3 linked regions of the Homo sapiens genome follow. The protein of the gene in region 2 purifies or fractionates together with the protein of the main gene of each other region. This does not show direct contact. Each region holds a gene or a part of one and is shown on either strand. Other genes may lie near its edges.

What was found.
Region 1: the proteins of CCDC97 (region 2) and PIP5K1A purify together in Homo sapiens (affinity purification with mass spectrometry; 2 studies listed by BioGRID and IntAct, with this or other methods). This does not show direct contact.
Region 3: the proteins of CCDC97 (region 2) and ATF1 purify together in Homo sapiens (affinity purification with mass spectrometry; 2 studies listed by BioGRID and IntAct, with this or other methods). This does not show direct contact.

What each region holds. Positions count from the first base shown.
Region 1 is NC_000001.11:151,229,493-151,233,141, reverse strand, and holds part of PIP5K1A (phosphatidylinositol 4-phosphate 5-kinase type-1 alpha), read right to left. Parts: intron 1,472-3,649; coding exon 1,341-1,471; intron 895-1,340; coding exon 777-894; intron 592-776; coding exon 439-591; intron 1-438. UniProt on the Homo sapiens protein: Catalyzes the phosphorylation of phosphatidylinositol 4-phosphate (PtdIns(4)P/PI4P) to form phosphatidylinositol 4,5-bisphosphate (PtdIns(4,5)P2/PIP2), a lipid second messenger that regulates several cellular processes such as signal transduction, vesicle trafficking, actin cytoskeleton dynamics, cell adhesion, and cell motility.
Region 2 is NC_000019.10:41,308,634-41,312,382, reverse strand, and holds the start of CCDC97 (coiled-coil domain-containing protein 97), read right to left. Parts: upstream 2,212-3,749; 5' UTR 2,073-2,211; coding exon 2,027-2,072; intron 1,907-2,026; exon of another isoform or gene 1,368-1,906; intron 1-1,367. UniProt on the Homo sapiens protein: May play a role pre-mRNA splicing through the association with the splicing factor SF3B complex which is involved in branch-site recognition.
Region 3 is NC_000012.12:50,794,974-50,798,622, forward strand, and holds part of ATF1 (cyclic AMP-dependent transcription factor ATF-1), read left to right. Parts: intron 1-924; exon of another isoform or gene 925-935; coding exon 936-1,036; intron 1,037-3,649.

The sequences.
Region 1 (3,649 bases), on a different chromosome or scaffold from region 2:
GAAAAGCACAAAACTGAACAACATTTTTTTTTTTTTTTTTTTGAGACGGAGTCTTGCTCTGTTACCCAGGCTGGAGTGCAGTGGCAGGATCTCGGCTCACTGCAAACTTCGCCTCCCAGATTCACGCCATTCTCCTGTCTCAGCCTCCTGAGTAGCTGGGACTACAGGCGCCCGCTACCACGCCTGGCTAATTTTTTGTATTTTTAGTAAAGACGAGGTTTCACCATGTTGGCCAGGATGGTCTTGATCTCCTGATCTTGTGATCCTCTTGCCTCGGCCTCCCAAAGTCCTGGGATTACAGGCATGAGCCACCGTGCCTGGCCTGAACTACACTCTTAAGATAGAAGTGCTGACACTGTTTTACCCTGCTGAAGACAGCCTCCCCAGCCTTGCCCAGAAGTGAGCAGCACAGGTGGACAGTGCTTCTCTCTCCCTTACCATGTAGTATCCTGGAAGCAGCTTCTGCAGAAATTCCGCCTCTTTATGTTGGACTGTCTTAATAATGAACTCATCGTCGCTGGACACATAGAATAGGGAACCACTAGCTCCAGAGCTACAGAGTTCAATCAGCGGCTCACTGCAGAGGGAATACTGGGGCAAACAGAGAAGAACTAAGAGATTTAGACACATCAGGGCCTTGCCCAACACAAAAATCAACTACAGATGCAATTCTTTTCTAAATAAAAACCAGAGCGAGACTGTGGAGAAAAGGGGCCTTCCTTTGGGAATATCCCTCTGATACTGGAGTCACAGTGTCCTGATATCCAGATGCTTACCAAGTAATCATCGGGCCGGATACCAAATAGCTCCCGGAAGTAGCGGAAGGCAACAGGTGCATAGGTCTTGAAACGAAAGTCATTGTAGTGATGAGCAGGGGTCAGGTTGCTCCCTTCACTGTGGGGTTAAACAGAGGTAGCCATAACTTGCCAGTCCCTATCATCCAGAGAATCTACCTTGCGAAGACACTCAGAGTCACCTCATGGTGGGGGGAGTGGGGGAATACATTCCTCCTAAGATAATCACAGCCCTTCTTAGATGAGTTAGTGAGACAATGGCACAGCATGGACAGCAAGACATAAGAAGAAGAAGAAATCACACTGCCTCCTATCCAATGCATTAGGTTGTTTTTTACGGGTCAATCCATAGGACAGAGGCTAATGGAAGCATCTAGAGGACAGTATCTGCTCTCCGAACTCTCTAGTCCCACATCGCCCTGATTGTAACCAGGTTAAGAAATGGACACATGTCTAAATTGTCCGACCTGAACCCCTAAAACTGCCCTGGGCTGATTTGAAAAGGCCACATTTCCAGGACATGCTCCTGAACATTAAACTCTGTACCTGGGAAAGAAGATACTCTCAACCACGTAGAAATCTTGCATGAGGACATCACGCTCTGGTTTGGTACTCAGGCTCCCCACAGTGTGGGTAATGCCTAACTGGATGGCACCTTTCAAGGCTGATGAGGTTGTCTGAGAAACAAGAGAAATGAGAAGAAAATTCCTAGTATAAGTAGGATCATAACAATAAAAATTCAGAAAGGGGAAGCTAGAAGGAACACTTTAAAACAAACATCCTTTAGTCTGAGCAATAGTTCAGATAAAACTGGGACAATCCAGTTTCCCCATCCCTATGCTGTACTCTGCAATTAAGCTTAGTAAAGATTGGAAGGACAGTGAGGATACAGAGTAGCAAAGCTGGGACTCTCTGAGCCAGCCTCAGCTAGGCAAGGTGCTCCCTCCTGTTGGCCTGCCTAAACAAGAGTTCCATATTTGTATTTGGAAGATACATTGTATTGACACAACGTTCTTAGTTCTCACTCCTAAGGTTTCTGCCCCCAGAGTGTATCTGGAGCCCTCTAAACATTTCCTTCATCTGATATCGAATGTAACTAAAATTAACCAATATTCCTTTTTTTTTTTTTTTTTTTTGAGACTAAGTCTCACTCTGTCACCCAGGCTGGAATGGAGTACAGCAGCATGATCTCGGCTCACTGCAAACTTTGCCTCCCCGGTTCAAGCGATTCTCATGCCTCAGCCTCCCGAGTAGCTGAGATTACAGGCATGCACCACGACACCTTGCTTATTCTTTATATTTTTAGTACAGATGGGGTTTCACTATGTTGGTCAGGCTGGTCTCAAGCTCCTAACCTCAGAACTCCCAAAGCTCTGGGATTACGGGCATGAGCCACCATGCCCAGCCCTAAAATTAACCAATATTCTGATCTGACTGCCTGGCGGCAGAAACTTCAGTCCTCTAAGGAAGGGCCTGACTAGTGTGTCTCAAGGCCAACAGGGTGGGGTGGGCGCGGGCGGAGGCTCACGCCTCTAATCCAAGCACTTTGGGAGACTGAGGTGGGCAGACCACTTTAGGCCAAGAGTTCGAGACCAGCCTGGCCAATGTGGTGAAACCGTCTCTACTAAAAACACAAAAATTAGCTGGATGAGGTGGTGTGCACCTGTAGTCCCAGCTACTCAGAAGGCTGAGACAGGAGAATTGCTTGAAGCTGGGAGGCGGAGGCTGCAGTGAGCCAAGATCACACCACTGCATTCCAGCCTGGGTAACACAGCCAGACTGTCTCAAAAAAAAGGGCAACAGTGTGGTAAAAGAGCTCCTAACTGAAGAAGAAAGCATGAAAGACTCAAATTATTTCTGAGAGCAGTATTCAGACTTAGAATTATCAAACTTGGTCAAAACACAAATACAAGAGCCCCACTCTTACAATCCAGGATTCCAAGCCCGTGGGAAAGTATCGCATCATCTAGATCTTTGCTGTCTGATAACAGTAGCCACTAGGTACACATGGCTATTTAAATTTAAGTTAACTCAAATTTAAAACTTCATTTTCTCAGTCTTACTACTTACAGTTCAAGTGTGGCTACTAGCTACCATATTGGATAGCACAGATACAGCACATTTCAATCACTGCAGAAACTTTGATTAGATAGCTTTGCTCCATTTGCCTCATCCCCAACCTCGGCCAGGCATTACTTATATTTCTACTTGGTCCTCAATGGGCAATAAATTACAACTAGTTTTTTGTTTTTTTTTTCTTGAGACGGAGTCTCGCTCTGTCGCCCAGGCTGGAGTGCAGTGGCGTGATCTTGGCTCACTGCAAGCTCCGCCTCCCTGGTTGACACCATTCTCCTGCCTCAGCCTCCTGAGTAGCTGGGACTACAGGCGCAAGCCACCACACCCGACTAATTTTTTGTATTTTTTTTTTAGTAGAGATGGGGTTTCACCGTGTTAGCCAGGATGATCTCGATCTCCTGACCTCGTTATCCACCTGCCTCGGCCTCCCAAAGTGCTGGGATTACAGGCATGAGCCACCATGCCCAGCCTACAACTAGTTTTTTTCATGTACAAATAGGTCAAAGGAAAATAAATTATTAGTTTCTTTTTTTTTTTAAGTACCTGCCTCCCCAGTTATAATAGAAACTCATCTTTTTATCTTAATGTTCAACATATAAAAAGAGCTAAATGGCCGGGTGCTGTGGCTCATGCCTGTAATCCCAGCACTTTGGGAGGCCGAGACAGGCAGATTACCTGAGGTCAGGAGTTCAAGACCAGCCTGACCAACATGGAGAAACCCTATCTCTACTAAAAATACAAAATTATCCAGGCATGGTGGTGCATGCCTGTAATCCCAG
Region 2 (3,749 bases):
CCAAGTGTGGTGGCTCACACCTGTAATCCCAGCACTATGGGAGGCTGAGGCAGGAGGATCTCTTGAGGTCAGAAGTTCGAGGCCAGCCTGGCCAACATGGTGAAACCCCATCTCTACTAAAAATATACAAAATTAGACAGGCATAGTGGCGGGCACCTGTGATCCCAGCTACTTGGGAGGCTGAGGCACGGGAATCACTTGAACCTGGGAGGTGGAGGTTGCAGTGAGCTGAGATCATGCCACTGCACTCCAGCCTGGGCAACAGAGTGAGACTCTCTCAAAAAACAAACAAACAAACAAAAACCTGAATGGGGGGACTGAATTGAACAACATGGGGGAAGTCAGTGCAGACCCTAATCAGAGCAGTTTCTTAGGAGAAAAGTCAGACAGTCGTGAGCAGGAGACGAGGAAATGAAGACCAAGTATACATGACTCTCTGAAGGAGACAGATGGGGCCAAGAGACAAATTTTTTTTCTTTTTTTTGAAACAGGGTCTTGCTCTGTTGCTCAGACTGCAATGCAATAGTGCAAACACAGCTCACTGCAGCTTTGACCTCCTGGGCTCAAGTGATCCTCCCGCCTCAGACTCCTGAGTAGCCGGGACCACAGGAATGCACCATCAAACCTGGCTAATTTTTTTTTTTTTGAGACAGAGTTTTGCTCTGTTACCCAGACTGGAGTACAGTGGTGCGATCTCTGCTCACTGCAACCTCCGCCTCCCGGGTTCAAGTGATTCCAGTTGGTGCCTCAGCCTCCCGAGTAGCTGGGATTACAGGCACATACCACGACGCCTGGCTAATATTTGTATTTTTAGTAGAGATGGGGTTTCGCTATGTTGGCTAGGCTGGTCTCCAACTCCTGACCTGAGGTGATCTTCCTGCCTCCGCCTTCCAAAGTGCTGCGATTACAGGTGTAAGCCACCGGGCCCGGCCTTAATTTTTAAATTTTTTGTAGAGATGGGGTCTGGCTATGTTGCCAGTGCTGGTCTCAAACTCCTGGGCTCAAGTCTCACTCTGCTGCAGAGGCTGGAGTGCAGTGGTGTAATAATCTTAGGTCACTGCAATCTCAAAGGATTCGAGTGACACTCCCACCTTAGTCTCCTGAGTAGCTTGTCCTAGCTACTCCCTAGCCACCAGGCCTGGCTAATTTTTAAATGTTTATAGAGATCAGGTTTCTCTCTCTTGCCCAGGCTGGTCTCAAACTCTTGGGCTCAAGCAACTCTCCTGCCTTGGCCTCCCAAAGTGTTGGGATTACAAGCGGGAGCCACTGCACCCGGCCTTAAGACTTTTTTTAGGTTAAATTTTTTATTTTTAGAAAATTTCAAACATACACAAAAGTAGAAAGTACAACGACAATTCTCCCCCTACCTCCATATACCAATCATCTCCATCTGGCTTCCACAATTACCAATTCTTGGCCAGTGGTGTTGGAGCCACGCTTCCAATCACACCTCACCCGACGTCGGATTACTTTGAAGGTTGTGGGAAAGCACAGAAATTGAGTAAGGACTTTGAAAGGAGCCTGGCTGGATTTCGGACTTTGGGGGAAACGGGAGTTACAATGAAATGAAGGAATCGTTAGATTGGGATAAGTTTGCATGAGGCAGGTAGAAGTTTAGCCTGGAAAGGTAGGAGGATTCGTCTAGAGAGCAAGGGAAGGCTCAGCTTGGTACAGGGAAGGAGGTAATTTGAGAAGGGCTGGTCTGAGGCAATGCAGGAATTAGGCCGGGGTAGAGAGGTTTCTGTTAATTTGAGAGTTAGCCTGGTAAGGAAATGAATTAGGGACATGGAAAGGATTGGTCTGGAACTGGGAAGAGGTTAATTTCGGGGGGAAGGAATGGAGGAAAAGAAGGTCAGCCCGCGACAAGGGAGGGAATAATCTGGGCAAAGTAGTGAAGAGGACCGGTAAAGCTGAGGGGGGTGGGTGTCCCCCTAAAACGAGTCCTACTTCGCGTTCCTGGGGGAATCATTTCCTAGAGACACCGCAACCGCACCCACCCGCCGCCTGCGCGTGACCAAGATCTCACCCTTATCGGGTTCCTTCGCCGCCGTCGCCGTCGCCACGGCCTCCATCCTGATTCTCTCGGACTTTTCAACCGCCCGGCGGGCCCCGCACACTAACCTCCGGCCCACGCACGCAAGAGACACTTTCGCCTGAGAATGTTCCGGGTCCGGGTGCACCGCTGCGCCCAGGCACCGAAGTTCCGGGCCTAAGGCAGACGTTGCATTGCGCATGCGTGCCTCTCTCGGGCTCCGCCCTCCGCAGCCAGGAAGGAAAGGGGCTCCCCGGAGAGTGAGAGACCCTTAAACCTCTCCTGTCAGTCAGTAGGAACCAGAATCATTGTTCGTTTTATCACTGCTGTGACTCCAGCTCCCAGCGTGCTTAATTTTGGGATGGATGGCTAAAGGACTTTCCCCCGGAGCCTGGAGCCGTCATACGCTGAGGGTTCGTGCTCTCGTTTAGACCCCCGCTTGTCCTTTTCCTTTCTTAACTCCTTCAGGAATTCAGGAATATTACTAAGCCTTGACTCTTTTTTTTTTTTTTTTTTTTGAGACAGGGTCTCGCTTTGTCGCCTAGACGAATGCAGTGGCGCGATCACAGTTCAAGTAACCTCACATTCCTGTGCTCAAGTGATCCTCCTGCCTCAGCCTTTGGAGTACTTGGGACTACAGGCGCGCACAACCGCGCCCGGCTAATTTTTAAAATTTTTTTGTAGAGCCAGGGGTCCCACTTTGTTGCCCAGGCTAGTCCCCAACTCCTGGCCTCAAGCAATCCTCCCGCTTCAGCCTCTCAAAATGCTGGGATTACGCGCGTGAGCCACCAGCCTGGCTTACTTCCGTCATCATACCCTGTCTCTGGCTGGCATGAGATGGATAGTGAGATAGAACTTCCCATTTTGTGTTCCCAGGACCTGGAGGAAATCTACAGGTGTGAAACAAGACAACTCTGGTCCTTATTTCCCTATGGGATGGGTGGGGCTCTATTTAGGTGTTACCAGCAGAGTAGACAGACATGTCACTCAGTGGCCAGGGCTTTGATGGATCCAGAGGGCTGAGGGAGCTGTCCACCCCAGGCTGGAGGGTCAAGGAAGCCTTCTTTCTGGGAGGGTACCCTCAAGCTAAGACCTGAAGAACGAGTAGGAGCTGGGTTAAGAGGAAGGTAGGGAAGAGTCTTGAGGAGGATGGCACGTACGGACGGTTCTGGTTGCTGCAAGCACTTCACTACGGTCAGGGCATAGGAAAGGAGCTCTAACTTGAAAGCCATGATTGGGCTGTGGAGGTTTTGAGAACCTCATGAATTTTTATGCAAAATTCCATGTACCTCTGTATTCTCCAATGCAGTGGTTCATGGCATCATTTGTGGGTTCCAAAAAGGACTTATGGCTCCTCAGAACAAAATAAACACTGATTTGATATTCAAAGGGGGAGCAGAAAGAGAGGGCGCCAGCGATGTTACCAGGTGCTAGGCCATGCAGGGCCTCATAAGCCATAGTAAGTGGCTTGACCTCCTTTATTCTGAAGGGAGTGGGCATCAAGGGACTGGAGATGAGACGTGTGAGAAAAACTGGCTGAGAACAGAGGAAGAGCTTCCCCATTTGCATTCCCTTGAGGTCTGGAGTTGTGGAAGAAAGCCAAGGAGGTCCCTATTTACCAACCCAGATTCCTAGGCATTACCAGGAGAGGCCAGCAGAGGGCGCTGTAGCCCAGCATATGGACATGAAGGGAAGGGGACTTTCCAGACTAAAGGCC
Region 3 (3,649 bases), on a different chromosome or scaffold from region 2:
AATTGTAAAATATTGCTATAACTTGCATATTATATTGATGTAGTTTATAAAAATTAACATTGTATGCATGCCAAGTGTTGCATGTATTAACTTGTGAAATGAGATAAAATTGAATCATACAGATTTTAAAATGGCATATATTTATACCTGCCATTGCCAGTGACCTCCACCTTGCTAAATCGAATGGTCTGTTCTCAGTCTTTATTTTATCTCAGCTTGTAAACAGCATTGGACATGGTTGATCATTCTTTTCTCCTCAGTATGCTGTCTTCACTAGTTTTCCATGGACAGCTCAATCATTTGGTTCTCTTCTTTACTGGTGACTCCTTAGTCTCATTTGCTGGTTCCTCCTCTTCATCCAGTCTCTTAGTGTTCCTGAGGTTAGTCCTCAGTCCTCTTCTATTTACCCCTATGAGCTCATCCAGTCTCATGGCTTTAAGGACTCTAAAAAGCTAGACCTCCAAAATTTATGTATCTAGCCCAGACCTCTTCCCAGACCTACAGGCTTGTATATTTAATATTCGTCTCAATGTCAGCAGTTGAATATATAACAGGTTTTTCAAACTTAGCATGTCAGGTAGATTAGTAATAAAACAACACTTTTAAGTAATGTGCATCAGTGTAGAAATAGGGTGGAGAATGACATCAGAGCCTGGTCTTTTTAACTCTGGTAAAATAGTACTGCTTCATTTGGGGGACAGACTTTATTCTCAGCTCTGGGCCTGCTATATTTGATATTCCTTTAATAGGTTGGGCTCCTGGAATAAACTTTCTCATTTTTCCTTTTCCTTTTGTTCCTTTCTTTTAGACTTTAGATTTAATGTACAAATGAATTGGAGTGGCAGGAGACAGATCATTTTTTTCTAAAAGTAAAAATTCAGTTGTTTCTTTTCCCACCTGCATTGTTCATCATGTTAATGCCAGTTCTTTTTTAGGTATCATCTTTATCAGAAAGTGAGGAGTCCCAGGACTCATCCGACAGCATAGGCTCCTCACAGAAAGCCCACGGGATCCTAGCACGGCGCCCATCTTACAGGTGAGTACTCTCTTGTATGAAGCCCTGCATGTTATGATAGTACCAAATGAGTTCAAGAGGTGCTGTGCAAAGTACACTAAAGAAGTTAGCACGCGTCAGTGTTAAGAATGAAATTGGTTGGCCCTCGCCTATAATCCCAACCCTTTCGGAGGCCGAGGTAGGATTGCTTGAGCCCAGGAGTTCAAGACCAGCCTGGGCAACATGGCAAGACCCTGTCTCTTCAAAAAATACAAACCTTAGCTGGACATAGTGGCGCACGCCTGTAGTCCCATCTACTTAGAGGCTAAGGCGGGAAGATGGCTTGAGCCCAGGAGTTTGAAGTTACAATGATCTGTGATTGTGTCACTGTGCTCCAGCCTGGGTGATAGAGCAAGATCCTGTCTCCAAGAAAAAATGAAATTGGACCTTTGGCCGGATGCAGTGGCTTATGCCTGTAATCCCAGCACTTTGGGAGGCTGAGGCGGGCAGATCACCTGAGGTTAGGAGTTTGAGACCAGCCTGGCCAACATGGTGAAACCCCGTCTCTAATAAAAATAGAAAAATTAGCCGGGTGTGGTAGTGCACACCTGTAATCCCAGCTACTTGGGAGGCTGAGGCAGGAGAATCACTTGAACCTGGGAGGCGGAGGTTGCAGTGAGCCGAGATTGTGCCACTGCACTGCAGCCTGGGCAACAGAGCAAGACTCTGTCTCAAAAAAAAAAAAAAATGTAAATTTAATCTTTATCTTACACCATTACACAAATCAACACCAAATGGATAAGAGACCTAAATGTTAAGACCTGAAACCATAAAAATCCTAGAAGAGAACATAGGCGATAAGCTCTTCGACATTGACCTTGGCAATGATTTTTTGGATATCACACCAAAAGCTTAGGCTACAAAAAAATAAATAAATGGGACTACGTCAAACTAAAAAACGTGTCTGTGTAGCAAAGGAAACAAAGCAACAAAATGAAAAGGCAACTTACGGACTGGGAAAAAATTATTTGCAAACCACTTATCTGATAAGGGGTTAATACCCGTAACTGAAGACAAAATGAGAGAACCTGAGGATACAGCTCTGAGTAGATTACCTAGAATGGAACACAGAAAGACAAAGTTAAGATAGAACACAGAATGAGAAGGTCCAGTACACAACATACATAGATAAAAGGAGAGAAGAGGGAAGGGCACTTCCAGCTTCTAGTCTCTCCAGGAGAGAAAATGATAATGACTGCAATTTCCAGGATATGAATTTCTCAGCATAAGAAAGCAAGGTCCCAAACAAGATAAATTAATAGAAACCTACATCTAGGTGTATGTTGTAAAGTAAAACTGGAGAACACCAAGGATAAACCTGAGATCTTAAAAGCTAAAAGCTTCCAAGTGAAAAGACCAATTACCTAGAAAGGAAGGACCAGTAAGCTGACAACAGATTTTTGAAGTACAGTATAAGACAATGAACTAAAATCCTTATTTTTATCTTTAAATTATTACATGTTTTTTTGAGACGGAGGTCTCACCCTGTTGCCTGGGCTGGAGTGCAGTGGTGTGATCACAGCTCACTGCAGCCTCAACCTCCTGGGGTCAGCTCCTCAGCCTCCTGAGTACCTGGGACTATAGGCATATGCCATGATGCCCACCTAATTTTTTTTAATTTTTGGTAGAGATAGAGTCCCACTATGTTGACCAGGCTGGTGTCAAACTCTTGGGCTCAAGTGATCCTCCCACCTCAGCCTCCCAAAGTGTTGCTATTACAGGCATGAGCCACTGTACTCAGGCTCCAATATTTAAATTCAAAGAGAAAGTAACTTTTGACCTGGAATTCTGTGCCTACTGAACAGTCTTTCAAAAATGACGGTGAAATAATAATCATTTTCAAACTGATTTAAGAAACTACTTAAGGAGGCTGGGTACAGTGGCTCACGCCTGTAATCCCAGCACTTTGGGAGGCCGAGGCGGGTGGATCACTTGAGGTCAGGAGTTCGAAACGAGCCTGGCCAACATGGAGAAACCCTATCTCTACTAAAAATAAAAAAATTAGGTAGGCATGGTGGCACATGCGTGTAGTCCCAGCTTGAACCCAGGGGGCGGAGGCTGCAGTGAGCTGAGATCGTGCCACTGCACTCCAGCCTGGGTGACAGAGTGAGACTCCATCTCTAAAAAAAAAGAAAAAAGAAACTACTTAAGTGTATACTTCAGGAAGAAGAAAATGAAAGGAATATAAATGTGAGAAAGTATGGTGAACAAAGACAATTCATTTCAGTTAGCATTGGCTTTTTAGAACAATAGTAATAATGATTAATTTGGGTAGTTTCATGGTTGTTGTTTTTTTTTTGAGATGGAGTCTCGCTCTGTCATCCAGGCTGGAGTGCAGTGGAGTAATCTCGGCTCACTGCAAGCTCCGCCTCCTGGGTTCATGCCATTCTCCTGCCTCAGTCTTCCGAGTAGCTGGGACTACAGGCGCCCGCCACCACACCTGGCTAATTTTTTGTATTTTTTAGTAGAGACGGGGTTTCACTGTGTTAGCCATGATGGTCTCAATCTCCTGACCTCGTGATCTGCCCACCTTGGCCTCCCAAAGTGCTGGGATTACAGGCGTGAGTCACCATGCCCAGCCTGAACCTGAGATTT